2 separate regions of the Homo sapiens genome follow, and region 1 is linked to region 2. The links come from fine-mapping of genetic effects on gene expression. A gene starts in region 2. The other region holds a variant in brackets. All regions are shown on one strand. Distances are from middle to middle.

What was found.
Region 1: its variant is fine-mapped to the expression of TTYH3 in whole blood (TOPMed, PIP 0.99).

What each region holds. Positions count from the first base shown.
Region 1 is chr7:2,604,261-2,617,482 of GRCh38, reverse strand. It overlaps IQCE (IQ motif containing E), which reads right to left. Exons shown (of 22, transcript NM_152558.5): 19 at 12,492-12,602; 20 at 11,486-11,607; 21 at 10,256-10,359; 22 at 2,755-7,439. The coding sequence ends at 7,321. LOC107986760 (a long non-coding RNA gene) reads left to right here. Exons shown (of 3, transcript XR_001745069.2): 3 at 2,507-2,900. Among named protein-coding and RNA genes, the nearest start is that of TTYH3, 21 kb to the left of the region's middle. RefSeq lists enhancers at 6,263-6,836, 6,837-7,410. The variant G/C (reference allele first, on the strand shown) is at 9,154.
Region 2 is chr7:2,623,058-2,639,621 of GRCh38, reverse strand. TTYH3 (tweety family member 3) reads right to left here and starts at 7,636. Exons shown (of 14, transcript NM_025250.3): 1 at 7,344-7,636. The coding sequence starts at 7,466. RefSeq lists enhancers at 1,178-1,849, 4,550-5,282, 6,126-6,235, 6,015-6,747, 7,480-8,211 and 2 more and a silencer at 7,286-7,695.

The sequences.
Region 1 (13,222 bases), 20 kb after region 2:
GCGAGGCTGCAATGAGCGGGAACCAGCTCCCTTTGTATATTTTATGCGAGCTTCGCCCCAGCCCACCCACTCACACCCTTCCCTGCTTTCATTCCTTTGCGAGCCGGGCCTGGGAAGGGAAGGGCTGGTGGGGAGGAAGCCCCCAGACAGGGCTGCCATGAATGGCAGCCGTGGGAGCCCTGGCAGCGCTGGACTCTGTCCTTTGAATCCCAGGCTGCTCTGGGACTTAATTAACGAATAGCTCAGGGGCACCCTCTCCTCTTATTCAGAAAGGGACACAGCACCATGGTAACGTCCCCAGGTTCCTGAGGCAGGCCCCATCTAATGGGGCTGGCCCTCGGGGCTGACACTGGGCCCTGCTCCCGGGATCCAGTGGGGAGGTGCTGGCCAAAGGCCATTAGCTGGCACCCACGCAGAGACACGCCACCCTGTTCTGCAGCCCGTCATTCATATTCCAAGCCCGACAGCAGTGCTGAAAGGAGCGAGGGACTCAGAGGCTTACTTCTTTTTTTTCCTATGTCCCCCAGGGACCTTGGAGGAATCTCATATTTAAAACTGTCTTGGCAAGAGCTTGTGGTGACCCTCACTCGGTCTTTGAGGAGGCCCTCATGCACTCAGCGCACGTCTGGGAGCACCAAAAACCAGAGGGCTGGATGGGGAAGAGGAAGAGGGTTCTCCCCGTGTGCCTGTGCGCGTGCGCATGGATGTCCACGCTCACATACTTCCATGTCTATCCATACCCCGGCCCACGGTGGGTGGAGGCCTGAGGTTGGACCTTCTCTCTCCTCCTCTCGCCAGTTCTAGCTGAGAAGCCCCCACAGGCTGCCTCCTCTCTGCTCCTGGGTCTGAACCCCTAGGGGAGATCACAGCTGGCGACTGCGGGGGCAGCGAGCTTGCAGCGGGCGAGTGCCTGGTGCACCATGCTCTCCAATGCCACAGGCTCCCTCAGGCCCTACCAGCTCGTCTGCAAAGTGCAAGTCTGCAAATGAACCGCTTGCCAGGACAGCACACAGGCCATCGGAGTGTAAAGATGGGCTCGGGGCAGGCCACGGTGGCTCGCACCTGTAATTCCAACACTTTGGGAGGCCAAGGTGGGAGGATCGCTTGAGGCGAGGCATTGGACACCAGCCTGGGCAACATAGCAAGGCCCCATCTCTACCAGAAAAATATATTTTATTTATTTATTTATTTATTTATTGAGATGGAGTTTTGCTCTTCTTGCCCAGGCTGGAGTGCAATGGCTCACTGCAACCTCCACCAAAATAAAATTTTATTTATTTATTTAGACGGAGTTTTGCTCTTCTTGCCCAGGCTGGAGTGCAATGGCTCGCTGCAACCTCCACCTCCCGGGTTCAAGTGATTCTCCTGCCTCAGCCTCCTGAGTAGCTGGGATTACTGGCATGTGCCATCACGCCCGGCTACTTTTTGTATTTTTAGTAGAGACGGGGTTTCACCATGTTGGCCAGGCTGGCCTCGAACTCCTGACCTCAGGTGATTCACTGCCTCAGCCTCCTAAAGTGCTGGGATTACGGGCACGAACCACTGTGCCCCACCCCTCAAATTTTGTATATTAGCCAGGTGCGTACCTGTAGTTTCAGCCACTTGGGAGGCTGAGGTGGGAGGATCACTTGGGCCTAGTAGTTCGACTAGCCTGGGCAACTTAGCAAGTCCTCATCTCTACAGAATTTTTATTTTTATTTTTTTGAGACAGAGTCTCGCTCTGTCGCCCAGGCTGGAGTGTAATGGCGCCATCTCGGCTCACTACAACCTCCACCTCCCAGGTTCAAGCAATTCTGCCTCAGCCTCCCGAGTAGCTGGGACTACAGACGCACGCCACCATGCCCGGCTAATTTTTGTATTTTTAGTAGAGATGGGGTGTCACCATATTGGCCAGGCTGGTCTTGAACTCCTGACCTCGTGATCCGCCTGCCTTGGCCTCCCAAAGTGCTGGGATTACAGGCGTGACAGAAATTTTTTAAAAAGTGGTTGGGCACAGTGGTGCACACCTATAGTCCCAGCTATCTGGGAGGCTGAGGCAAGAGGATTGCTTAAGCCCAAGAGTTTGAGGCTGCAGTGAGCTATGACTGCACCACTGCACTCCGGCCAGGGCAAGACAGCAAGACCCTATCTCAATTTAAAAATATACATATATTTTCACACACACACACACACACACACACACACACATATAAGATCGATAGAGAGAAAATAGGCTTGGGCAAATGCCAGAGCCAACCACAGTAACTGTGGAGGCTTCGGACAAACTCCACTCAGGATTTAGGGCCCCAGGGCAGGCAGCCACAAGCACACAAAGCCACAGATGCTCCTTGTTCTATGCAACAAAATATTGGAAAACAAAACCCAGATATCAGCTCCTTTTGGTCGTTTCCATCTGTGTTTGATTCCTCAGTAAATTATTCTTTCCCTGCTCCTGAAACAAAAATGAAATCAAATATGGAGAAATAACTCCCTCACGCACGCACATTTTTGTGTCCTCATATCTAAGGAATAGATATTCGACGGGGGACCGGGGTGTCAACAGATGTATCCGAGTTCATGCGTGGCAGGGAGCTGGCGGCGGGACCCGTCCCTCCAGCTGGCTCTCCAACCCCAAGCCTGCATTACGACCACGGCAAAATGCCAGAAGCCCAGAGAAGCGGGGTTTCTGAAGCGGATCGTTTGTTCAGCCCGAGTGCGTGGGGCAGGAACACACCTGGAGGTCATTAAAGAGAAGTCTTCACGGGGCACTCAAGGCACACTGCAAAACAACTTTTTATTTAAAAGGCCAATAATGAGAATAATGAGTTGCACAAGAATGAAAACCTTATCCCTTCCAAAAGATCGGCCTATACATTATGTATAAAGTTAGAATAATTCTAAATACAAAATGCCAAAGACCAGCGGGTCCACTCCTTCCTCTCCTAAGCCATCTTGACAGTTTCACATTTCAGCTTCCAGACGTCATTTCTGTTGCTTTTAAGGGTGCTTACCCAGCCGTGGTCTGTACCAGACAGGGTAGTTGGCACAGCGTAGGCACTGCCAGCAGGCCCTTGGGAGCTTGGCGAGGTGGGAGCCTTGAGAAATAGCTGGCTCGGACCCATGGCGGGGTTTGTGTGTCAACTCCCTGGTCCTCAGAGAATCCGAGCCACGGGAGAGCAAACGCTGCTTCCAAAACCAAAGGAGGAATTTTGCAATCGTTTAGACGGGTTATAATAGAATCTCATTCAGATCTTGAAGGTTATCGGTGCTTTCTGCAGGTTTTTATTCCTCAAAAATGCAGCCAAGCTTTGCTGTGCTTATCTTGGTGGATCTGAGCTAGGTTGGGCTATCTTTTCCTAATTCAATTGCCTTTTTTTTGCAAGGAAGGGGGTTTCTGGTCCATCGGAGGGATCAAGGGCATGGTCCTCACGTCTCGTCAGGAGACAAAAATAGACATTCAGCAGACAGACCACAGCCAGCGCATGCGACCAGCGTCGTTTGGCTATTTTAGTCTCTTCTTAATACACAGACAAACGAGCAAAGAAAAAGCTACTTTGTCCAACACCGGGCCCTGGGTTGGAGTTTAGCCCTGCTTGGCTCTGCCCGCTAGTCTCAGTCAGGTCACTCACCCCAGGCCTGCGGGAACGGTGGTCTTGGTGGTCTTCTCTGGCCCTTCCACCTCTTCTGCCTTGTGGGGACCACCCAAGCCCTCTCCCGACTTGCCCAGAGGCTGCACGCCTCTCTGGCATCACAGTCCGCACGGAGCCTGGCTGTAAGGCTCCACTGAAATCCCCCCGGCGCTGGCTTCGTGCCCCAGGCACACCCACCTCACTTCTGCCTCTTTTCTGCTGGTTTCTGGCCTGTTTGGTCCCAGCCCCTCCCTGCACTCTCTCCGCAGCTGTCTGGTGGGTGATGTGAACCAAGGGACACCCAGGGTCATGGCACTGCCTGGATTCAGTTTGGTAATCGTCGGCAGTCTGTCCCTGGCTTCTGAGCCTGGGGCCTCCTCCTCTTTCTCCCCATCCTGGATGAGCAGGACACGCTGGGGAGACAGCGTCCTACAAAGGCCTCCTAAGAGCTGTGCCCTGTGCCAGGAAAGCCTCCTGTATCTCCAAGGATGTCCCTGGAGCCCTCCAGCTGGTGCCTCTGCTGAGGTCTGTGAGCAGCGGGAATAGGCCTCTAGGGGAGGAGTTGGGGACAGGCCTCTAGGGGAGAGCACACCTCCGGGTACTGCACCTGTGGCTCACCAGCCACCTGCACGGGGCCAGCTTCAGCCTCAGCAGTGTCAGCTCAACAGACGTGACTGCTGTCAACACAGTGGGGCCAGGCCCTGGAGACTGACATCTCCTGTGGCTGCTTGTTTAAAGGGCATGGGATAGAGAAAGAGTGTGTTATTTTAAAGCTGGACTACCTAACAGCCTCTGATAGCAGATACAGCTTTGCTGCTGTTCTTGAAGTTCAAGGTGATGTGGAGGTGTTGCAGTGACAATCAGTACACCGTGAACAACACCTGCCACCAACGTCGACCCTGAAGTGGTAGATGGGGCCTGCTTTGGCACTTGACGCTGGGGCAGGAGTCCCTTTCTTGGGGACTCACTCTCTACTTCGTCTCCCCCGGGAGTTGTCTACTTTCCTAGGCCCTGCCAGCAGCCCCCACAGCTCCGCCCAGCCCACTCCACCAGCTTGCTGCTCCCATGGCTCAGCCCCACTCACAGCTCACCCCTCCCATGGCTAGGCCCCATCCACAGCTCACCCCTCCCATGACTAGGCCCCGCCCACAGCTCACCTCTCCCGTGACTAGGCCCCGCCCACAGCTCACCTTTCCCATGGCTAGGCCCTGTCCACAGCTCACCCCACCCATAGCTAGCCCCATTCACAGCTCACCTCTCCCATGGCTAGGCCCCACCCACAGCTCGCCCCGCCCACAGCTCACCCCTCCCATGACTAGGCCCCGCCCACAGCTCACCCCTCCCATGGCTCCATGGGCTTCTCTTCCCCTCCTGCCTAAGTCCCCGCAGGGCCAGAACCCCTGGCCCCCAGGCCCTGGGGCCGTGGGCAAGGAGGCCTCTCCGCTTGGTACTGTCTCCATGGAACAAAACCACACTGCAGCGTTCCAGGACCACAGAACAGCCAGGCAGGCTGTACCCAGCAAAGGGGACTGGTGACCAGCACTGGACACTGGGCATCAGCTGAAGACACTGGCTTGAGAATGCATTGCCATTTACCCAGCGAGCTTCAAGATGGATGCTGGCTTTTAAAAGAGCAGCCCAGCTGCACCAGAGGACATGGCGGTTTATGTATGGAACATTGGCCTCCAAGCCTGAGGCAGGAAAGCCCTCTCCATGCCTGTAACCCAAAGCTCTAGGCCACTGGTTCCCAAGAGTGAGCACGTCCCGCAGAAACAGCTTGGTTTAACAAGTGGGAGCAGCTGCCACAAGAGAACGGAGGGTCTCCCCCAGCGAATGTGCAGGTGTCTCACTTTCTCAGGGCTTTCGAGGTGGACTGGCTCCTAGGACCTGAAGCTTTGAGCTGGCAAGCAGGGATGGCTTGGGACAGCGCCCCAGGGAGTGGACCCGGGCGGGTGGGGTGAAGGCAGGGGTCTAAAGAGGGCCTGTGTCAGTTACACAGTCCATCAAGTTACCAGCCAGTTCAGTGGAAAAAAAAATGGACTTGGCAACCCACAGACCAAATAAGGAAAACACGTACACAAGCCAGGCCCCCCGCTGACTCGCTTCCACCCACTGCAGAAACAGAAGCTAAGTGGAGACAGGGGCCAGGCTTCGAACCGCAGGGTGGGGCGGGTCCTGCACTTTGGGTGGCCCCATCCCTGAGTGACTGGGAGAGAACAGGCTGGGCTGGGGACACCTGTGTCCTCCTCCCATAGAGCAGGTGGACATGCAGAGCCTCCTCTCTCCCTTTCACAAGCCACTGTGTTGGGGCCATCGGCCTTCTGACCGCCACAGAGAATGACCCAGGCTCAGCTTAGGTGACTCAGAAGGCCGCCATGCTGCAGAAAAGGCGCCCAGGGGTTAAGCCTGTCCCCGTGGACGGAAGCCTTGGGAGAAGCTGTCAGCTGTGTAAAAAGGGGCTTTCTAACCATTGGGTCTCTCCTGAGACAGCGGCCAGCCCCGGCAGGAGTCCCCACAGGGGTGCTGTGGAAATGCAGACACCAGGCCTGGGCTGTGCAGGGGTCTAGATGCCCCTGAAGGCCCGCCCAGGTCTAAGGCTCTTCCTCTTGACGCCCCAGCAAGGGCTAATCTCACACACAAGCAAGAGATGGGCACTGGACACTGTGCGCTTCCCCCAGGAACTCCCTCCTAGGCCTCTGCAGCTGCTGGCTCCACAGGCTCCGCACGCCCGGCCCAGCCCAGCCCAGCCCAGCCCAGCCCAGCCATGGAGCTTGGGAGTGCAGAGGCCGCACACATGGGGTGACGGGGACTGTCCCAGACACCAGATGCAACACGCCCCACCACGAGCCTATGCTGTCCCTTGGAACGGCGAGCCTGCCTCCTCACCCTCCTCTCCTCCTCTTCCCCGGGTGGCCCCACACAGGCTAAGGCTCCCGCCACCAGCTTGGGAACAGACATCACCCTGCTGTTCTCAGAAGCAAGTGTGATGCTGCTTTTGTAATTGGGAATTTTAAAAAATCTTGGTCTCCACAGTGACAGAATCCAACCAAATTCCTTCCTGGGAAGGGCAGCTCTGGAGGGCAGTGCTCCAGGGGATAGCAAGGGTGACGGGAAAGGACGGTGTGAGCGGGTGGGGCATGGAGTAAGATCATTTGGGGACCTGGGTGTCTTTAGCTCCTCACTGGCTTGGGACAGGCCGTGTTTTGCTGTGGGGATGGGGGAAGCCGGTCTCACACCTTCCTAAGGCACAGCGGGGTGTGTCTGCCTGGCCTGCTGGGCTGAGATCGAGCAAATCCTGGTTGTTGAGGGTGTCACCAGGAAGAGGGGGCATGGTGTCGGCGCTGGTTGCGGATAGCAGCTCCTCACGGTCAAGGTCGTGGGCAGGCGGCAAGGTGCTGTCAGAGAACGTGTCACTACAGGGCTCCCTGGCATCTGCGAGTTCACGGCAGATGTGTCTGTTGGCACTGAAAATCCACCATCCGAGCTGCAGCTGGAGATGAGGGGGATGCGAGCCGCTGGCCCTCCCCAGAGAATAAAGTAAAGGCATTTGGGTCTCCTTCCACAAACAAAAGCACAAAGAGACACGACGCAGATGCTGAGGTGTTAAGTAGGTATCATCGTTCTTCTCCTAACACGATAAATTATCTTTCCAGTCGTGGTTCCTATGTCCTCGGCAGCGCTGCCATCACGGCGTGGAGACAGTGACGGGGACCTAAACTGGAAAGTTCTTCGTGGGCAGAGACGGTGCAATGACAATATCGTCGGAATCATCGGAGTTGACGTCATCCCCAGGTAGAGGTGCCAAGGCCTGTGGCCCTGAGGGAGAGGGGTCTGCAGAAATGAACCACAGGGAGAGGGGTCAGCCACGCTGACCTCAGGGGCTGCCACCACGGACACCCTTACACTGTCTGCTCTTCCCCGGCAGGCAAGACGGCAGCCACCCCGAGAAGCAGTAAGCCATGGGGCACACAGGCCCTCAGGAGCAACTCACACACCTGCCAGAAAGCCTCACTCTCCGCCCTCAGGACCAACTCACACACCTGCCAGAAAGCCTCACTCTCCAGCCTCAGGACCAACTTACACACCTGCCAGAAAGCCTCACTCTCCAGCCTCAGGACCAACTTACACACCTGCCAGAAAGCCTCACTCTCCAGCCTCAGGACCAACTTACACACCTGCTAGAAAGCCTCACTCTCCAGCCTCAGGACCAACTTACACACCTGCCAGAAAGCCTCACTCTCCTCACCTTCAAACTCAGCTCTGAGTATTCTCACCATTTCCCCCAGTCAAAACACCTGCAAAAGCAGACATTTGCCAGCATGGAGGAACCTCGAGTCCACACTGGAGTCATTCCCTGAAAGCCATTCCCACAGCAGCAGTCCAGGAGTCTGGGGCCTGGGTGGGTGGCTACCCGTGTGTAGGAGCGTTTCTGCTGGGTGCAGTGGCTCATGCCTGTAACCCCAGGACTCTGGAGGCCGAGGTGGGAGGGTGGCTTGAACCCAGGAGTTCCAGACCAGCCTGGGCAACACAGCTAGACTGCACTTCAAAAAAAAAAAAAAAAAAGCCAACTTCCCTGTTAACTCGCTGGCCACTGGTATAGAGGGCAGGAGGGGGCAAGGCACGGATCGCTGTGAGCTTGCAAGCTGCTCGGCCATTCCCCCTTGGATGCTCCTTCCTAAGCATCTAGAGCGTTCCAAACTTTTAATCCATTCTAGAATGGGACGCCACCTACAGACGGGATGGAGGTGGGTACCAGAGCTGAAGAAGGGACGGGTCCTACCACAGCAGCAGCCCCAGAGCTCCTTGCCGGGGAGCCTGAGTGTCGCTGCCTTGAAAGACGAAAGTAAAAAAGTAATGAACTGCTCATGTGAGATTTTAAAAAGGGAAGGAAATGGCAATTCGGCCATGCCGCAGATACTGTAACTGTGTCAGCTTTTTTTTCCTGCAACTTTCAAGAAAATTCATATTAAAGGGGAACCTTATGAAATTAAAAACAGCTTTCATGGTTATCTTCAAAAACAACCAATCAGCTCAAACAAAAGCTTGATTTATACTTTTCACAGAGACATTTCCTTAGGTCAATAAAGCTGAATCCCTGGGTCACGGGGATGAACTTGCGTCTTTAAAATCACTTGCGTTGAGCAAGAGAAAAGGGCAGCATCAACGCACGCTTTAGCCCTGATCAAAGCCTCTAAAGGTCACCAAAGGCAGGGTCTGGCGAAGCCGGTAGAATCGGCTCCCGGAGAACAACTGAAAGCCTTTTGCAGAGCCCACGAGTCACAGGCCGGCCCGACCGCTTTGCGTGTCTGTACATTCTCCCCGAAACCCCAGGCTGCTCATCTTTGTGTTGAGCTTTACAAATGGAAGTTTTGGAGAGAATATCAAAGTTCAAAGTTTTCTAGCTCTGACGAAACTAGGTTAAAAAATGAAAATAAAATGTGATTTCATACGTGGTATTTCCAGGTCAAACGTGGTATACGGTTCTTAGCTCGTGCAGGAGACTCTCTAAAACACAGCCCCTAGCGGGACCCCCTGGGGAGGGAAG[G/C]CTCTCGGGCTCCAGGTCTGATGCGGGCCTCAAAACGGCCTCTTCCCAACTCCGTGACTCCGCGTCAGCACAGGAGGGATCTCCCAGGAAAGCGAGGCCTCCGCCCGCCACGGGCCCCCACACTTACTGGAGTGGTACTGGGGGGCTGCCGGCTCCCTGGGCCCGTCCTGAAGGGACATTCAAATTAAGGCATGTGGGTCCTGGGCAGGCCTCACCCTTCCTTCACCCCCTGGCCTTCCTCACCCTCACCCTTTGGGCTCAGAAGAGCCTCTTCCTTTGTGGTTTTCCTTGCTGTTCTCTCTCCTCCTTCCCTGACTCCACCCTGGAGACCTAAGGACTCAGCACAGCAAAGCCCTTCGCCTGACACTTCCCACGTGAAACAGCCCCGCACGCCACACTCCCCTCCTCAACAGGGTCTTAAGGCTGCCCTTCTCCATCTCCCGACAGTCCCGAGTCTCAACAGCGTGCCTCCGCACTCATCTTCCCTTTACAGGAGGTGTCAATGGGGGGTTTCTAATTGCAGGATAAGACACGGGATCTCAAGTCCACGCAGAGCAGCATAGATTTGGGGTGGAGAGTGGCTTTCCAGCTGTCTAGCCCGTTCTCTACTTTAAACATGAAGGGACTGACGGCCAGAGAAAGGCAGGGCCTGCTGGGGCATCCCCGTCAGCTCCGGGCAGAGCAGGGATGAGGCCTCACACCAGGGTGTGGCATCCTGCAGTGCCAGCGGCTTCTTCACTGACTGTTTTTGGACTTTAACAAAGTAGAAAAGGAAACAATAACACGGTTTTACTCAACAAACAAACAGGAGAAATGCTGGCCTGAAGGAGGAAGCCACCTCGGTCCTGTTGGAGCTGAGAGCAAAAAATAAAGACAGCAAGGACCTCGGCAATTCCAGGCACAAAGGACAAGCTGGGCCAAGGCGGGGCCCTGTTGTGGGCCTTCCTGGCATAAGGCGACGCTTAGTTCAGAGGCAGCTCCAGATGGGACACTCCTCCCTTCCGTCCCGACACAGCCCGGGCTTCCTGGAGGTGGCCACTCTTTGGCTGAGACCTCAGCAGACCAGCTGCCCTGGTGCCAGAATCCAAATGAATGAAATTACCAGGAAGAGCTGCGAGGAAGGGTGGGGAGGAGGCGTCCCCGTGTGTGGCTGAAGCCGATCTCCTCCTGGTAGAAGCTGCGGTGGTGGTTCTTTTACCGGTAGCACTGGAAAAAAACAGAAAACGCCAGCTGATTCTGCTTTTAGAGAGTACAAACCTCTCTGAGGTTTACAGCAGCCTCAGTAATTTGCTTGGAGGCAAGTATTCCAATGAAAGCAAACACAGAGCCAGTCCCGAGCCCCACGACCAGCGCTGTACCCAATATGCACCCAGGGTCCAGAAACGTCCGGCGGTGAAGAGCCTCAGACACGTCCCCGTCCATCTCCTCGGGGACCATGCTGAGGTCAGGCCGGCATGGTTTTATAAGCTGGCCTCAGACGGCTCCGTTCCCTGTCTCCTGTCTGGGTCAGCCCAGCTGCCATTCCCCGGGGACATGCTTGCAGGCTGCATGGCCCTCCACCTCCTGGCTGGGGCTCGCCGCCCAGGGATGGGTCCCTGACTCCTGAGCCCACAGTGTGTCCCAGGTCACATGGGGTCAGGACCATGAGATGCAGATGCGGCCTTGGAGGGAGAAACTGCCCACTCGGAAGTGCTGGGTGGCCGCGCGGCTCCACCACAGAGGCTGAGAACCAGAGCAGTCTGTGATAAGAGGGGAACAAACCCCATGCGGGGTGAAGCAGACGGGGGTGACGGAGCGGGGCCGTCTCTTCCCCTTACTGTAAACTCCCCCCGGCCAGGCTCACTTCAAGGGGTTTTGATTTCTGCAACCGAGAGTCCTAGCAAACCCACCAAGAGGCCTGTGGGAACGCTGCCATCTAGACCCTGCACGCGTCGCCTGTCATATGCCGTGTCCAACACGGAGGTCACAACACAGTTTTCTTTCACAGGGATGACCTATCAGCACAGCCAAAAGCCAGGCCACAGACTGATGGTGACCTGAGCTACACGGTGTGTGAAGCTCCTCTTCTCATCTCCTCCCGGTAGGGAAGAAGCGACTCTGGAAAGGCCTCCCCCGAGGATCACACCTTCCAGCCCACTCCACGTCCGTGGTGCAGCAGGGAGTCCTCAGGATGTGAAGCCTTTACTCTGGCTCCAAACCGAGGTCCCGCTGGCAGGCGGCAGGCGCTGCTCCAGTTTCCGCCACATGCCCTGCACCCAGTGCTCCGGGCCCAGTGCGGTGGGCAGCCTCTCGTGCCATGTCTGTGTCCCACGTCCCCGTGACCCTGACTCACCTGTGCCTGGCCCGGGCCAGGTGTGCCCGCAGAGCGGACTGGATGATGACGATGGCCTCCTCCTGCACAGGGCTGCCCGTGGCCTGGGCGATGGGGCTCGGAACGCGGGGCACAGGAGAGCTCTGGGGTGCAAGGACAGCAGGGAAGACGACTGTTTGGCAGCCCCCTGCTGGCTCCCAGCACTCAACCCCCAGGGCACCCTGGGCGTCAGGGAGACAGGAAGAGCTCAGTTTCCTTTTCAGATGGCCCTGCCTCCCGGGAATTGCTGGTCAGTGAACAGCCTCCTGGTGGCAGGTTCTGAATTTTTAAACTGTAGGGATTCTTATTTATCTATTTATTTATTTATTTATTTATTTATTTACTTATTTATTTATTTTTGAGATGGAGTCTCGCTCTGTTGCCCAGGCTGGAGTGCAGTGGCGTGATCTCGACTCACTGTAAGCTCCGCCTTCCGGGTTCACCCCATTCTCCTGCCTCAGCCTCCTGAGTAGCTGGGACTGCGGGCGCCCGCCACCACGCCCGGCTAATTTTTTGTGTTTTTAGTAGAGACAGAGTTTCACCATGTTAGCCAGGATGGTCTCGATCTCCTGACCTTGTGATCCACCTGCCTCGGCCTCCAAAAGTGCTGGGATTACAGGTGTGAGCCACCGCGCCCGGCCTACTATAGGGATTCTTAAACAAAAACCTGGTCCTCAATACAGAGGAGGGGCCGCAATGGCCTGCATCTGTCTTTAGTAGTTTTTAGCTACATCTTCATGGAGCTACTTGACTCTCCGGCAGCTTAACGCAATCTGGCCCTAACGCCACATCCATCCGGGGCCTGTGCAGAGGGGCCTGCGCAGAGAAGCCTGCATGGCCTGCGTGGCCAGGGATGGAGCGCAGGGGACGCCTGCTGGGCGGGCGGGGATGTGGAGGCTGAGGGGTGCCCTACGCTTTCTCGATGGATGGAGTGCGAGACGAGCAGCTCTGCAGATGGCCACTGGGACGTCCAGCACCCCGACATTACCTGGTCTGGGAGGCCTGGCACGCTGGGTGGCTCTGAGCCATGTGCTTTGCTTGCTAAGAGCTTTGTCCGCGTGAGATGTCCCCTGAAAGCTGCCTGAAGCACCACAGCCGCCTGTCAGGGAAGGAAGCAGGGAGAGAAAAGTGGGTGTGAGTGCCCGGGGCAACGGCGGGCGAGAGGGAGGCGCCGAGGAGAGAGCTGCCACGGCAGCAGGGAACGTGACTCCCTTCACTGCTGTGCAGCCACGTTCTCTCAAAGAGCCGTCCGTGCTCCCACTCACCCCAGTCTGGGAGAAACTCACTGGCGCCCCAGGGAGCTGACAGGGCATGGCACCTGTCAGCACAGTGGGGACTCTGGGAATGGCAAGGTGCCCGCTGCTCACTGCAGTCCCTTTCAGCGGCTAATAGGAGCTGGTATTTCACACATGGTTAGGTTTTCATGTTGGAGCGTTTTTTCAGGTTGGAATAGTTTATTGGTTTCATCTACTTTCCATAGATGTCTTCTAAATCAAGCAAGGGGCCACAAGACCTCTGAAGTGATCTTAAGAGAATTATTTATCCTGAAATGATTTTCTTAGGCTATGTGGCTGGGTGCAGTGGTTCATGCCTGTAATCCCAGCACTTTGGGAGGCTGAGGCAGGGTGATCACTTGAGGCCAGGAAATTCAGATCAGCCCGGGCAACACAGCAAGACCTCGTCTCTACAGAAAATTAGCTGGGCACGGCACACACCTGT
Region 2 (16,564 bases):
GGTCCTGGCTGGGCTCCGGGCTAATTGGGAGCATCAGCTTCCAGGGCATCTTAGCAGCAGCTTGCGCTGGGTGCTGGGGCCCAGGCTTGGACAGACAGCTCGGCCGCGCTAGGTCGGGGGCTCCCCTGTGCCCACAGTGCTGGCCCCGTGAGCTCGGAGGCTGTGGGAGGCAGGAAGAGGAATGAGGCGGTCACTGAAACTCCCGTTGTGGGGAGCATCGTGGGTACCGCAACAGGTGGGGGAGGGCACTCTTGGCCCGGGGACAGTGTCAGCCAAGGCCTGGCACAGGGTCCAGGCGGCAAACGTCTCCTGCATGCCGAAGATACACTGGCAGCAGGGACCAGCCAGGCCCTGGCCTGAGCCTGTGCGTATGGCAGCAGCACGGGGCTCCGGGAGGACGTGGCAGGCGAGAGGTGGGAGTGGGAGGGGAGTGACCCCCACCTGCCTCCACGGATGCTGAACTCCAGCCCTGGAACTCCCAAGGCCCCTCCTCCAGAGGAAGCAACAAGGTTTGGGGGTGTCTGAGAGGCTGGCTGGGGTCCCACACCCCAGTGCAGACCGAGGGGTTCTGGCCCCCAGCACTGTGAGAACCCCCCAGGTGTCCTGGGCCAGGGTCAGGAAAGGGGCGGGATCCCTAGGGCCCAGACTTGTTTGGGGAGGCCAGGGTGGGCTCGGCGTGTGCGAGCCACTACCACCACCCCCATGTCAGGGGCCCGCCACTGGGAAGTGGGTCCCCCTACCTTTGCCTCGTGGGTCCCCTTGCACAAGTGGGGGGTCCAGGGTCACAGTCTTTGGCTAGGCCTCAGCCCCCCATGCGGCCAAGCTGGACACGTGGCCCCAGCCCCTACCCATAGCACACTCGGCCCAGGCTCCCAGCGACACTGGCCCAAAATTAAAAACAGATTTTCCACCAGGCTGGGTTTGGGTTTCACGCATTCCATGACGGTGAGCTCCTGGCCGTGCCTGGAGGACGTGCAGCCAGCAGCGGCCACGTGGGAGCCGGGGTCGGGGCCAACTTTGTGTCCCTGTCCCCAACTCCTGAGGTCCGAGGTCCAGGTCGCCAGGCTGCACATGGCCCCACACCCCCCGGGGCTCCCTCCGGGCTGGCCCTCACCCTCCAGGAATGGCCTGGAAGGAGGCCAGAGAGGCAGCCCTGGGGCTGAGGCTCAGAGCCGCTCCTGCCCGTCTCCCCACAGGCCGGGCCCCTTTCCTGCACCCTGTAGCCGGGGGACCCCAGCTCTCCCGCTGCCCACGCCCGCCCTCCCCCTCGTGCAAGGAACAGACACCAAAGAGCTGCAGCAAGCGTGTCTATTTTGGTCCCCGTGCTCCGACACATCTCCCAGCGTGACACCCGGAAAATCCCCTGCTCTTCCCACTTGTCTGCAGCCCTCTGCACCAGCTGCCTGGGGACCGGGCCCCAGGCCTCAGACCCAGCCAGGAGCCGCCAGACTGGAGCCCCATCTCCGGGATCAGCTCCCTACCAGGGAGAGGCAGCCCAGAGGGCACGGCCGAACCCCAGACACAGGGCTGCAGGGCTCAGAGCTGGGTGCACCCCAGAACTTCAGGAGTGCTCTTCCACGATGGCCAGGAACCCAGCCAGCGTGCACAGGCCCGAGGGGGGCAGAACGGCTAGGGGCACTGTGGCTGGTACCCTCCTCAGAGGCCGAAGGCACTGGCACTCTGTGGGTGGCCCGGCTTCCTCCCACACCCTCGGCCAACATGGGCCTGACCCAGCCACAGTGGGTGCTGCCCCACAGGACTCAGGTCTCAGCCAGCCTCCCAAGACTGTGAGAAGCCCCCTCGGATGGTGTGAGGCCCAGCACAGGGCCTGGGTGGGCTCCCTGCAGAACATAGCGGCAGGCCCGGGTACAGGAGGCCCTCCTGTGACCCTCCCACACCCACCATCCACCCGCTGTCACATGCCAATTCCCCGGTGGCCACGTCAGGCACTTCCCATGTCCTTGACCCCAGGCCCCTGGCTGCAGATTCGGTTCCTCTTCTCTAGCCGAGGCCTCAGCAGAACTGACGGTGGGGCAGGTGGGGGAAGTGTAGATGCCCCTGAGCCCCCTAAACCTGCACCCCTGGGTTCACGAACTGTGCTGACGCTGTATCCACTGGGACGGACGTGGCTGGGCTGCAGCTGGAACCCGTGCCCAGTCTTCCGGCCCCCCATGCTGGCCGGCCCCCGTTTCTGCTTATGTCGGGGACACAGTGTCCACCTCCCAGGGCCACTGGGTGGCTCTCCAAGAAAAGTGCTTTAGAAACGAGCAGCACAAGCATCCGGGGAGAGCCGCCGTGGCCTGGGGAACCAAGCTGCAGGGCTCCCCGCTCCCCCAGAGCCTGACCAAGAGCCCCCGGCCGGGGGTCAGAGCGGCTGACACTGCAAATCCCTTAGACGGGGTTGGCTGGCAGGGCCTGCCCAGGGGTCAGGGGAGGAAGAAGGGTCACCATGGAGATGCCCAGAAGAGGGGTCCTAGAGCTGGCCCTCGAGTCTCAGGCGAGTGGGGGGCAGGCGGGGGTCCCGCACACACAGACTGGAGTGGCCCCTGGTGATGCTAGAACTGGGGAGATCAGGGAGCCAGCACCCTGAGCAAGAATAACCACCCCAACATCCACACCTACAAAAAGCCGTGAAGACCTCGGGGACTTCTAGAGGGTCCCAGGCTGCTGCACTCCAAGGAAGGGGCTTGAGAACCCCAGAGTCTCCTGGGGACAGAGGTGGCCAGAGTACCCTCAGAACCACAAAAACCAGGAGCCCAGATATAGGAACCCTTGATGCGGGCAGCGGCCGGGCCAAGGGTGGCCTGACACCCACCCCAAGCAGGTCCAGGGCCCACAGCTTCACACCCCCTGGCCAAAAGGCAAGCTCAGCCAATCGGAGTCTCCCCAGGAATGCAGACACCGGCCAAGATGGAAATCCTGAGTGGACTGGGACCAGCCATCAGGGGCTTCCTGCCCACCTCCACCCCCCAATGCAGGGTCCCATTCGCTGTACACCCCCAGCCTAGTTCATCAGCTCCTGTCCACTCAGGGATTGCTCCTGAAGCTTCCACCCAGCTCCCCGGGGGCCTCCGTGTCTGGCCCGCTTCTGTCATCTGTAGGTACAGAATCCTGCCTGGCACCGTGGGACGCTGGACAAGCATCTGGAACACGGTCCAAAGTACGAGACATGTCAAAAGCAATAGGATTCCAGTTCTCAGGGACACCCACCCTACAGCTCTATGCTCTTGGACTGAACCCAGCTGGAGGGACGCTTCTGTCTCACGCTCTTCCCTTTTCCCCAAATGTTCCATGAACGTGTACTGCTTTCGTAAATGACAAGACAGGCGACAGGCGACCAACACTGCCGTTTTAACCAGAACTCATTTCCTTCTGATGAGTGGGGAGGATGATAACAGGCCAGCCCTGCCCCAGGGAACTGCCCCCCAGGCTGCAACTGGGCACAAGGCTGACCTCACCTTGTGGCGGCACAGACAGAGGTGTTGTGCTCTTAGGAGCCAGGCTCCCAACTCTGCTAGGAGAACACTGGCCCTACTCCCAGAGCTCAGATCCCCTCTGAGTGGCCATCCAGCCTGGGCTGGCACAGTGCCTGGAACAGAGGGCTCACCAGTTCCTGAGGCAGCACATTCCCCGTGCGCAGTCAGACCAGAGCGACCCTCTGGCACGTGGGGCTGAGGCCTCTCCCCGAGGCTCAAGCTTCTCTCTGCCTCAGGGCCTTTGCACCTGCCGTTCCCCCAGCCCAGAAGCTCTTCCCCAAGGTCTCTGTATGGTGACCTCAGTCTTATCATTAAGGTCTCAACAGAAACATCTGGGCATTCCAGGCTCTAGTGGAAAACACGTCCCCCATGCTAGGCAAACTGAGGCAGGGCCCACTATCTGCCCTGGAAGGCAGATGTCCCAGTGAAACCATCACCTGCCAGGGCCAGCACGGCCCATGGAGGAGTCAGAAATGAGCAGGCAAATCCTAACCCTCTGATTGTCGGCAGCCGGGCTTGCAACCTCCATGGCAAGCCAGTTAACACCACCTCCTGCAGGAAGCCTTCCCTGACCACTGGGCTCCCACCGCCTGGGTTCGCAACCCACCACAGTCCGTAGCTGTTGTCCTGCATCTGGCCTGCCCTGAGCTGGAGGAGACAGCCCGAGAGAGAGGCTGAGGTCAGTGGGCATGAACTTGATCCCTGCCTGAGGACACGGGGTCACAAAGGGCTGGTGGGAGCTGAGCAGGCAGGCCTCCCCCGAATAAAGCCCAGGACAGTGTCTGGACCACCCAAGGTCACGCAGGAAGAAGCGACAGAGCGAGGGTGCAGGCCTGCGATGCTCTAGCTGAAGAGAAGGCTCTGCTGCCCTCAAGGGCCCCTGCCCGGGGCAGGACAGCCAGACCCACTTGACATTCAGGACTCACTATGCAGCACTGACTGGCCCCGGGCCACGCCAGAGGCCTCAGGCCCAGCCCTGCCAGCTCAGCTGCAGGGCCACCAGGGAGTCTCAGGCCTCCTGTGGGCCTCCAAATCCCTCCTGTGAACAACAGCCCCCCATTCACTCAGATGCTCAGGCAGCACGGGAGCCCCTCTCGACAGTCACTGGCTGGGGAGCTGCACAGAGCCGACCCCAGATGCCCCTCCACCCCCTGCCCTCTCACAGCTCCCTCAGCCCCCATCAGCTTCTAATCCCACGGTCACACCCCCAGCGGCAAGGCAGCCGTGGGGGAATCCGGGGAGCCTGCGACTCCAGGCTGACCCCGGCTCCTCGGGGGGCCGGACGAGGGACCTACAGCAGGGCTGCGGCCCCACCACTTACTCACTATGTGATTCGGAGCCTCAGTTTGCTAATCTGTACAATGGACAACTCTCCCCACCTCCTGGGGCTGTGGGAAAAGTGACTAGTGACAGGCAGTCCCACGCAGGGCCTTGAAACAGGACCTGGCCCTGGTCCCTCCGGGGGTTTCACCAGGGTTCCCAACAGCAGACCACGGGGGCCAGAAATAGCAAAGGACAAAGGCCAGTCCCCCGTGCCACACCCCCAACTCCCAACCCCAGGCCCCACCTCCCCTCCATCCCCCCGCCCCCATAACCACGGGGCAGATGCCCACTCCCCAGCAGGGCACAGCCCAGGTTGGGGCAGCACAGAGACAGCTAAGAGGGAGCCCTCAGTCAGGATGGGTGAGGGGTCCACCCCCCACTACAGCCAGCAACTCCTCACCAGGGGAGGCAGGAAGGGGCGCCTGCCACAGCCCAGGCCCACCCACTGCCCATTCTCCCAGGAAGGGGGCTCCTGGCCCTTGCCTCCCAGGGGTGACCCTACACAGGAGGCACGGCCAGCCCAGATTCAGGATGAGGCAATGAAGGCTCAGAGACACCAAGCAGTTGCCGAAAAGCACCAGTATTGGAAGGGCAGGGGCAGGACGCACGCCAGGACCAGCTCACGCCACAGCCCCTCGCCAAGAGCCGGGAGTGGAGGCGGCGGGGGATGGAGGCAGGCCGGTTTCCACATCGTGAATTATTCAGTGGCTAATTCTGCTCTGTGGAGATGAGGCAGGAGAGAGAGTGAGTCAGAGCCCTCCCACAGCAGAGCAGAGCGCAGGGCAGGGGAGGAAAGGGGGCAGAAGCCAGGGCCTCCCAGGGCCATAGCACCCTGCTGGAGGCCAGGCAGGTCAGGCTGAGCAGAGGGGCCTGGCTACTGCCCGGAGGCTCTTGTGGGCTGCAGACATCATCGCCCCTCACTCCCTCTCACTGCCTGTCTCGAATGTGGGAATGCAGGCACCCCGGAGGGCTGGAAGGAAGTCCAACTGTGGCTGGCAGCTCGGGCAGGTGGCAGCCCAAGGGGCAGCAGGAAACAGCCGCCCCCCACGCCCCAGGGCTGCCCCGGAGCTTAAGAACTGACAAATGGGCCAAACCCTCAGGGCAGAGAACTTTCCAAAGTGAAGCACACCCTCCTTGCAGCTTCAACAGAGTCCTCCAGGGACAAGTGGCAAAGCCATCAGCATGGAATAAGTTCCAGAAGTTCCTGAATGTGCATTGCCCCCACACTGAACGGTCCCCCAGGGCTGGGCTTCTAGAACGCAGGCGTGAGATTTTATACCAATCCTTCCGCCTCCCTCCTCCCTGCTGTGTCTGGGCGTGCCTGGGCCGATCCCTCGCCCCCTTCCTCATCTGTTAGGAAACGTCATCGGCTCGGCTGGGGGGCCTGGGTGCAAGTGAGCGCGAGGCTGGGAGCAGTGGGCTCCCAGGTGCCCTGCTCCTCCACTTCCGCCTCCCTCCTCTGGATGCGGGAGGCCACAGACAACGCAGTTCTGAAGAGTCCAGGTGCTAGGCTGCCCGCGGAATACCGGATTCCCAAGCCATTTTGATAAGCAAAGCCATCCCCACCCCACCATGGGGCTCTGCCATGATCCGTCCAGAGAGAAACTCCGGGTGACCAGGGACCCTGGTCACGGGGCTTCTGGAATCCGGATCTCTAGGCAGGAAGGAAATGCCCACAGCTTGGTCCCCTGCCCCGCACTCAAATGACAGTAGCTTGGCGATGGGGGTGGTGCTGGGGCCTGGCATGATGCCAGGCTAAGGGCTCCCCTGGGAGAGGGCTGCAAAGGGCCCCCAGCCGCCCCCCAGGTCTGCCTGGGCTCAGCCGCTTCCAGCCTCCCTGCCTGAGGCCCACGGTGCTTCCTGGCCGCCGGGCCTCCCTCCCCCGGGGGCTACAGGCAGCCTGGTCTCCCACGGCCACACACGGCACCCTGTGTACATCCCACAGCCTGACCGCCAAGCAGGGGGTCATTACCGGCCACAGAGGGCTGGCGGCGGCCCAGGCCATTCACCCACTGGAAGCCTGGCAGTGGGATTCCCCAGTCGGGGGTGAGTGGGCGAGGAGTCTCTGCCTGCCTGCACCCAATGTGCTCAGGCACCCGCTCTGATCTCAGAGCCTGGGGGTCATCTGGGGAGGGGTCTCTGCTGGGACACAGCACCAGGCCGCCAACAGTGATGGTGGAGAGGCCCTCCACTGGCCAAGGGGGCTCACGGAGTGGGGAGAGGCAGCTCCATGAAACCCAGGGGCCTTAGTGACACCAGAAGGGAAGGCCAGAATCGGGAGGGGGGCCGTGGACCCTCACTGGGGGTTGGAGGGTATTTAGACCTTTGAGGAGGAGGCCATGACCCTGGAAGAAAGGGTCCTAGGACTCAGAAGGGACCCTCGAGAAGGAAGGAGGCCGGTACCTGCGAGGAGGAGGTGGCCGTGACCCTGGAGGGGGGGATGAGGGGTCTTTAGGCCCTCGGGGATGGGGGCCGTGACCCTGGGAGAGGAGGGGGCCGTGACCTGGGGTCCCTGACCCCGCGACCCCGAGAGGCCCATGTCACCTGCTGGTAGTCGGTGTCCTCGGGCCGGAACTGGCTGCTAGTGGCCTCCCAGCTCAGGTCGAAGTGGGGCAGCCGGTGCAGGAGGCTCACCCACCAGGGCGCCGCGTAGCTGACCCCGGCCATGGCGGGGCCCGGCCGCCTCCGGATGCGCGCGGCCTGCGCGGGGCTCCCTTGCTGGCCCGGGGCGCGGGCTTCAGGGACCCGTCGACCCCCGCCTGGCCGCCCGCATCATCCGCGCGCTCCTGGGCCCGGCCCGGCCCGGCTCGGCCCGGCTCGGCTGCGCTCGGCTCCGCTCGGCCGCCCGCGCCCGCCGCCTCTTTGTTCGCCGCCGCCGCCGCCGCCCCCTCCGCACCCCCGCCCGTCCGCCCGCCGGCCCCGCCCCCGAGCCTCCATTGGCCCGCCTCCCGCCAGCCCAGCCCCCGCGCGCCCCGCCCTCTGTCCCGCCTCTTACCCACCATTGGTCTATCCCCCGCCGATCCCGCCCCACAGCGTGCCCCGCCCACTCGCTCCTGAACCTCTATTGGTCCTTTTACCTGATGGTTTTGCCCCTCCACTCGCATCCCCGCCCATTACCCAATGGCCCCGCCCCTCCACGTGTCCCCGCCCTTCGGCCCCGCCTCTGTACCGTCATTAGTCCGCCGGCAGAAGCTCCGCCTACTTCCTCGCCTTCTTGGAGGGACGCCTGGCCCCTAAGGCGCTGGAAGACCGACCCTCAGCGCTGTAAGACCCGGGCCAGCCAGTCTTTCCACGTGGCCGTGGGGGCTGGAACCCTGGCTGCATATGCAGCTGCGCTTCATTCCATGAATTCGCTCTTCGTTTGGATCTTTGCATGTTTCTTATTTGACTCGAGGGTCCGGCCTGGTGGGCTGGGCTGGTCTTGGCCTCCCCATTGCACACACAACAGCCCACAGCCCGCAGCGCCCAGCAAGGCACCGAGTGGCCTATCTGTACAATGGACATGATCTGGATTCAGGGCCTGGCTGGGGCACCTAGAGCTGTGTGATCTGGGGCAAGTTACTTAACCACTCTGTGCATCGGTGTCCTTGTCTGTAAAAGGGGATGATAAAGCTACGAGTGTTGGCAGGGCGTGGTGGTGGTTCATGCCTGTAATCCCAGCACTTTGGGAGGCCGAGGCAGGCGGATCACCTGAGGTCAGGAGTTCGAGACCAGCCTGGCCAAAATGGTGAAACCCCGTCTCTACTAAAAATACAAAAATTAGCCAGGCGTGGTGGCGGGCGCCTGTAATCCCAGTTACTCTGGAAGCTGAGGGAGGAGAATTGCTTGGACCTGCGAGATGGAGGTTGCGGTGAGTGGAGATTGCGCCACTGCACTCCAACCTGGGCAACAGAGTGAGACTCCATCTCAAAAATAAAAAAAATTTTTTTTAAAAAGGTACGAGTGTTAAGTGGATCCGCAGGTAGATTCAGTCCCCATCCGGCCTTCCCTCTGGGGAAGGTTGAGTCTTTTGTCAAGACCTAAGATGAAGACGGTGCCCTGTTCTGGTGTCCTGGGGCCTAAAAATTCAGGCACCTGCCAGAGAGGGCCCATCATGGGCTTTGGAGCCACACAGCCAAATTTCCTAACAGGGCCTCCCCATGCCTGTGCCTCCTCCTTTGCTAAAGGGGAGATGGGAGCTGCCAGAGCCAGGAGGATGGACATAGTGCGTGCTTGGGCCCAGGTGCACGCCTCCCTCCGCACTCTAGGGCAGTGGGTGCATCCTGGCTCTGCTTCATCACCTGGGGCCTTATTCCTGGACCTCCTGTGTACTGAGAAACAGGTTTCCACACCCGGGCTCCACCATCTGCTGTGCCCGACTTGGCCAGCTCTGTGGGCAGGCAGGCCGTTCCTGGCAGGAAGAGCTCTTTGCAGGCAGGGACGGTTCCGGGCAGTGTCTTCCCAGGAGGCCTGGACTTTGGCTCATTGACTGCCCTGACTCGCCTGTTTTCCTGTGATAGGGCACCGGGCAAGAGGGACTAGCTGAGCTGCGGTTTCCACCCGCTGGATAACTTGGAGACACCACCCAGCTGGGAAATAACAGCCAGGCAGAAGGGGGGAGGTCGCATTCTCCATCCCTAAAGGCCGAAGAGCCAGAAATTTGGGGTGGGGTGGGGATACTGGCTCAGGTTCCTCTCTCTCCAATGCCAAGGATGGTGGGAGCTCCAGGCAGAATGAAGCCCCCCCCAACCCCCTAAGACCAAGGCTACCTACTTGGAGTGGGCTGGTACCTGGCCAGGTGAGTCCTCTTCTTTGGCGCCAGCTGATTGCTCACTGTGAACAGGTGGCTTAGGCAGGACGCCCACTCCTAGCCTGACACTGCTCCAGCATCCAGCCTGTGACCTCATCTCCACAGCCAGGGGATCGCCTGCACGGCCCGTGCCCTGGGCTGACTCTGACCTCAGAGTTCTGTGTCGCATAACTCCAGGGATGAACAGGGCAGTCCCTGGCCAGCTGCAGAAATTGTCCTCATGGCCTGAGATCGTTTCTGGTTCCTGCTGTTAGCAGCAGCTCCCATGGCCACAAACAGACCTCCTGCTTCCCCCCACCACAACTCCAGTGCCCTCCACACCAGCCTGGCAGCCCTGCCAGGGTACACACATGCAGGCAGGGGGTACAGGAGTTCCTTCCCCTGTTTCCAGAAGCCTGGCAAAATTGTACCTTTCCTTTTGATAAAGCCAGAAAGTCTGATGCAGACATGATGTGAGATGATAACTTAGGGTCAGGCACAGTGGCTCACGCCTGTAATCCCCACACTTTGGGAGACCGAGGCAGGGGAGATCGCCTGAGGTCAGGAGTTCGAGACCAGCCTGGGCAAATGGTGAAACCCCGTCTCTACAAAAAAATACAAAAATTAGCCAGGCATGGTGGCACATGCCTGTAATCCCAGCTACTCGGGAGGCTGAGGCAGGAGAATCGCTTGAACCCGGGAGGTGGAGGGTGCAGTGAGCCGAGATTGCGCCATTGCACTCCAGCCTGGGTGACAGAGCGAACTCCATCTCAAAAAAAAAAAAAAAAAGAAAGAAAGAAATGATAACTCAGGTGTAGTGGATTGAATTATGTTCCCCAAAAAGATATGTTCAAGTCCTAACTCCTGGCACCTGTGAACGTCACCTTCTTTGAAGAAAGGGGCCGGGAGCAGTGGCTCATACCTGAAATCCGAGCACTTTGGGAGGCCAAGGCAGGAGGACCGCTTGAGGCCATGAGTTTGAGACCAGCCTGGACAACATAGTGAGACCCTTCTCTACAAAAAAATTTAATCAGCTGGGTGTGGTGGCTTGTGCCACCACAGTAGTTCCAGCTACTTGGGAGGCTAAGGCGGGAGGATCACTTGATCCTAGGAGATCTAGGCTGCAGTGAGCTATGATCGTGCCACCGCACTCCAGCCTGGGTGACAGGCTCATGCCTGTAATCCCAACACTTTAGGAGGCTGAGGCGGGCGGATCACCTGAGGTTGGGAGTTCCAGACCACTTTGACCAACATGGAGAAACCCTGTCTCTACTAAGATTACAAAATTAGCTGGGCGTGGTGCCATGCACCTGTAATCCTAGCTACTCAGGAGGCTGAGGCAGGAGAACAGCTTAAACCCGGGGGGACGGAGGTTGCAGTGAGCCGAGATCACGCCATTGCACCCCAGCCTGGGCAACAAGAGTGAAACTCCATTTCAAAAAAATAATAAATAAATGAGAGTCTTTGCAAATGTAATCCAGTGAAGATGAGGTCATACTGGGTTAAAGTGTTCTCTAATGCAAAGATGGTGTCCTTATAAGAAAAGATAAATTTGGACACAGACTCAGAGATACAGAGACACAGAGGGAAGCACCCGTGTGAACACGGAGGCAGAATCTCAGGGATGCCGCCACAGCCCTGAACGCCGAGGGGCCACCAGAAGCTGGCAGAGAAGCCTGGGGCGCTCCCTCCCTCAGAGCGCCCCGCCTCAATCTCAGCCTTCTGGCCTCCAGAACCGTGAGACAATGCATGTCTGTGTTTGAAGCCACTCAGTTTGTGGAGCTTTGTCACGGCAAATCCAGAAACAAACACACCGGCTTTCTCAGAGCTTCCTGGTGGCCAGCGCCCTGTGCCTCTGATGGTATGGGATGAAAAGGTACTGATGACTGAGTAATATTTGCAGTGTGTTTGGGCCATGAAATCTATTCCTAAGGGGCCTGTGGAGGAAGAATTTGGTAAAAGGGATCCAGGGTGGAGAGAATAAGGGGCCCACAGTGAAGGTTCTGGAAGAACACAGCCAGAGTCCCTACCTCACCCCCGTGCAATGCTGCTTGGGATCCGGGTGTTGAAGAGAAACTCCGTGGGTCCCTCCCTCCAGCTGCCAGGAAGGGTAAAGGAGAGAAGGCCAGAGAGAGGATCTAGTGTGGGCCAGGGCATGGAGGAAGCTCCGCCCACCATCCCACCTGCTTTGACCCGACAGTCACTGCCCAGAGCTGTGTGGTTCTTCCCATCTGTCCTGCAACCACTGTGGCTGGAGGCTGGACTTTAGTCCCACTCTACAGACGGAGCAACTGAGGCCCGGTCCCCGCCATTGCATGGGAGGCCTTGAGAATCACAAGCTGGTCAGGGAACCAGGGTTCAGCCTAGTTCCAGGGGCCCTTCCTCCCTCCCCACTTCTTCCCTCCCTCCCTCCTTCTGTCCTCCCTCCCTTCTCTCCTTCCCTCCTGCCTTCCCTCCCTTTCTCTCCTTTCTCCCTCCCCCCACCTTCCTTTCCTCTCTCCTTCCTCCTCCCTCCCTCGTTTCCTCCCTCCCTCTCTCCTTCCCTCCCTTCCACCTTCCTTCCCTCCATCTTTTCCTCCCTCCCTCCATCTTTTCCTCCCTCCCTCCTTCCTTCTTTCCCCTCTTTCCCTCCCTCCCTCCTTTCCTCCCTCCTTCCCTCCCTCCTTCCCTCTTTCCCTTTTTTCCTGCCTCCCTTCCTCTCTTTCCCTCCTTCCCTCCTTTCTCCCTCTCTCCCTCCCTCCTCTTCCTCACTCCCTCCTTTCCTCCATCCCTCCCTCCATCTTTCCCTCCTTCCTTTCTCCCTCCCTCTTTCCCTCTCTCCCTCCTATCTCCCTTTCTTCCTCCCTCTCTCCTTCCCTTCCTTCTTTCAAGTGAAATAGGGATTGTGAGCAAAAACCAGGCCTGGGAAAGTCTGTGAGAGACTGCTGAGGCAGTCTGGCACGGAGGGAGGGGAGCAGCCAGGCCAGGAGCTCCCAGGGTCTTTCCCCTACGCCAGGAAGGCGGCAGGGTTGAGGCTCCCGAATGGTTGTCCAAAGGCCTGCAGGCACCGGAGAGAGGCCAGGCCTGAGCTGAGCATGGCCAGGCCTGGACCGCTCCTCCAGATGCTGGGGCGGAAGCCAGAACAATGGAATTCCCTGTGTTTGGGCCCCATCCAAAGAGGTTCACATTTTCTGTGGAGACGGACCTCACTGGCCGGGAAGAGAAGGCTGCGGGGCTGGGCTTCCTGGCGCCTGCTAAGATGAGGCTGGGTGATGCTGTGGTCGCACAGCCAGCCGGTGCCTGGCGGACCACAGACACCTGGCTGATGGATCTCGGCCGCAGGGGAGCCACAGAAGCACTGCTTTCAATCTGGGTCTGAGGCAACTGGCCCGCAGCTCTGGAGGCTGGGAGAGGTGCCAGCCAGCATGGTCCCCAAGAGGACCACGGAGCAAGCCACGCACACCTGGCCAGAGTGAGGATGTGAGCACCTCTCATTATCTGGGCTCACCTGGCCAGCAGCCTCGCCTTGTCCAGAAAGCCACTGGGAGCCAGGAGACCAGTGGGGATGGCCTCTGAGCTGCCAAGAATTCTGTCCCAAGTCCCATCACTTAAGTCGAGTGTCTCATTCAGAACCTCCCTACTTGCCACATAAGACTATCAAGACCGGGTCTCAGAGTCCCAAGCCCAGTGTAGATTGAAAATAGTGCCCTGAGGCCAGGCATGGCGACTCATGCCTATAATCCCAGCACTTTGGGAGGCCGAGGACGGCAGATCACCTGAGGTCGGGAGTTCGAGACCAGCCTGACCAACATGGAGAAACCCCATCTCTACTAAAAATACGTAATTAGCCAGGCGTGGTGGCTTATGCCTGTAATCCTAGCTAGTCGGGAGGCTGAGGCAGGAGAATTGCTTGAACCTGGGAGGCGGAGACTGCAGTGATCACAGGCAATGAGCCGAGATCACGCCATTGCACTCTAGCCTGGGCGACAAGAGCGAAACTCCGTCTCAAAAATAAAAAATAAAAAAAAAGAAAAAGAAAAGAAAAGAAAATAGTGCCCTGAGGTCAGGCATGGCAGCTCACGCCTGTAATCCCATCGCGTTGGGAGGCCCAGGTGGGAGGATCACTTGAGCCAGGAGTTCCAGACCAGCCTGGGCAACACAGGGAGACCCCATTTCTACAAAACATTTCAAAAATAGAGGCCGGGCGCGGTGGCTCACGCCTGTAATCCCAGCACTTTGGGGGGCCGAGGCGGGTGGATCACGAGGTCAGGAGATCGATTCCATCCTGGCTAACATGGTGAAAGCCCGTCTCTACTAAAAATACAAAAAATTAGCCGGGCGTGTTGGCGGGTGCCTGTAGTCCCAGCTACTCGGGAGGCTGAGGCAGGAGAATGGCGTGAACCCGGGAGGCGGAGCTTGCAGTGAGCCGAGATCACGCCACTGCACTCCAGCCTGGGCGACAGAGCAAGACGCTGTCTCAAAAAAAAAAAAAAAATTAGCCTGTCCACGCAGCCCCACCCACCAGCTAGGTTTTGTTGCAATGAGCACTGTGCTGAGAGTTGTGAGACCTGGGACTTATGTCAGGCTTGGCCCAACTGCTATGACCCCTTTGGGAACCCATGTCACCGACGGGGGAACTTAGCGTCCAGTTTCCTATTTTAGAGATGGGGAAACTGAGGCTCCGAGAAGGGAAGAGATTCATCCCACACCCATAGCCCTGACTCACTGAGGAAACAGCCATTTTTTTAAAAAAGAATGAAATCATGGCCTTTGCCGGAACATGGATGGAGCTGGAGGCCATCATCCTAAGTGAGCTCACACACCGCACGTTCTTACTCATAAGCAGGAGCTGAGCAATGAGTAAGCATGGACAGAAAGAGGGAAACAATAGATACCGGGGACTCCAAAATGGGGGAAGGGCCGAGCGCGGCGGCTCACGCCAGTAATCCCAGCACTCTGGGAGGCCGAGATGGGTGGATCACTTGAGGTCAGGAGTTCGAGACCAGCCTGGCCAACATAGCGAAACCCCATCTCTACTAAAAATACAAAAATTAGCTGGGTGTGGTGGCACATGTGTGTAATCCCAGCTACTTGAGAGGCTGAGGCAGGAGGATCGCCGGAGCCCAGGAGGTCAAGGCTGCAGTGAGCGGTGATTGCACCACTGCACTCTACAGCCTGAGCAACAGAGCAAGACCTTGTCTCAAAAACATAAAAACAAAAATGAAACGAACAAACAAACAAAAAACAAAATGGGGAAAGCTTTCTTAATGCTCTGATGCTTTCAAGGGATGTTCGTTGTCTGCCAGTAAATTCCTGCTCTGGGGGTGCCGGGAGCCGGCTGAGTCTGAGCAGGATATTCATCAAGACCCAGGACTACCGTCTCTTCCTGGCGGCCTCCAGTGCCCCAATTCCAGGAGCAGTGGGAGAGGGTATCTGGCCACTCTGTGGGCTGCAATTGGCATTGGTGACAAAGGCTGGCTGAGTCGCTGTTGGCAGGTGGACCACCGACCCCACTGCCTGAGCTTGGTGAGTAAGACGTCTTTCACCGACCTTCAGAAACAGGCCAGCAGCGGGCGTGGAGGGAGGCGCTGGGGCAGAGTGGGTGGGGAGGGGTTGCCGGATGGATTCTCACCTCCCTCTCGGGAGCCCCGCCCGCTGCTCTCACAGGACCACAGGCTGTCACAGGCTTGAGCTGCCAAGGAGACACTGCTCCCCCTCCAAGAGCAGAGACCTTTCGGCCAGGCAACTCTCTAAGCCTCAGTTTCCCCAGCTGTAACAGGAGGAGGGTCATGCTTCTCTCCCTGGGTGGGTACTGGGATTATGCTGGAAAAGGGGTGTCCAAGGCCAGGCCCCACATAACCTGCGTGCTCTGCCCCATGTCCCCTTGGGGGACCCTGTCCTCACCCCACATCCACTGTGTCTCTGTCTGGCCTGGGCAAGGGAGTGTCCTGCACCCTCTAGGTTTCAAAGCCTGGATCTGACAAACTTCACTCCCCCACGCATGGGGAAAGGCCAGCTCAGCTTCCTTGGCTGGTTTTCTGGTCAGGGTGGGCCCAGGAGCCCAGGGAACCCGGGGTCTCCCTCACTGGGCCGGGCAGGCTGCTGGGTCTGGGGATCCTCTGGAGAGCTGATCCTCCCCTTGACATGCCATTTCCAAGGCAGGGGGCCCAGGAGGGAATGCAGGCCCCCCCAGCACCCCGGAGGCTTTGTCCAGAACACAACACCCTGGAGACCCGGCTCAGCGTGGGAGGAGTGCTGTGCGTGGAGGTGGGCAACAGGCAGCCCCTCCGTGGCCTCCACCCCTCTTCCAGCCCCCAGCCTAGGACAAGCACGGAAGGTTCTAGAGGCCGCTCTAGGGGTGGCCTACTTGCCCGGAGGGGCTCATCTCATGGGAAAGGTCTGGAGGCAGGAGGTGGGGCCTTTTTTGGGTCACGTGAAGATGTCCAGGGGCCACCTGGGGAAGCCCTTCAGAGGCATCACCATCCTGCCCCTGGCAGGGCCGCCTCCTCCGGGCACACCCAGTGCCAGCCACCATTCAGGAAGGGCTCTCCAGCTCCACTCCTGCCAGTCTCAGCTCTGGAGGCTCGGAAAAGGAAGTGTCTTGCTCAAGGTCCCCCGGAGCACGGGGCAGCAAGGCCCTGCCCTTTGTCCTGAACTTCTCTGCACCGCCCCAGTTCATCTCTGTCAAGGAATCTGGCCTGCTGCCCCCCTGCCAGCCCCTCCCTGGCCTCCCAGGGCCTCAGGACCAAGTCCAGAGTCCTCCCAGGACTGGCGAAGCCTCCACATCGCTCCCGGGGGTGGGGGGCAGTGCAGGGGCGCAGGGCTCTGGAGAGGAGCAGGCAGAGGCTTCTGGAAGTGAGATGGTGATGGCAATATTATGAGGGCCAGGGCCGGGCCTGGGATAGACGCTTAGGATGTGTGTCTGGGATGAATGGTGTTTTGCTCTTCCAGAGCTCTGCCGGCTGGCATAGGCCCTCCCCGCCCACTGGCTCACAGCTACCCAGAGACAGGGCCAGCA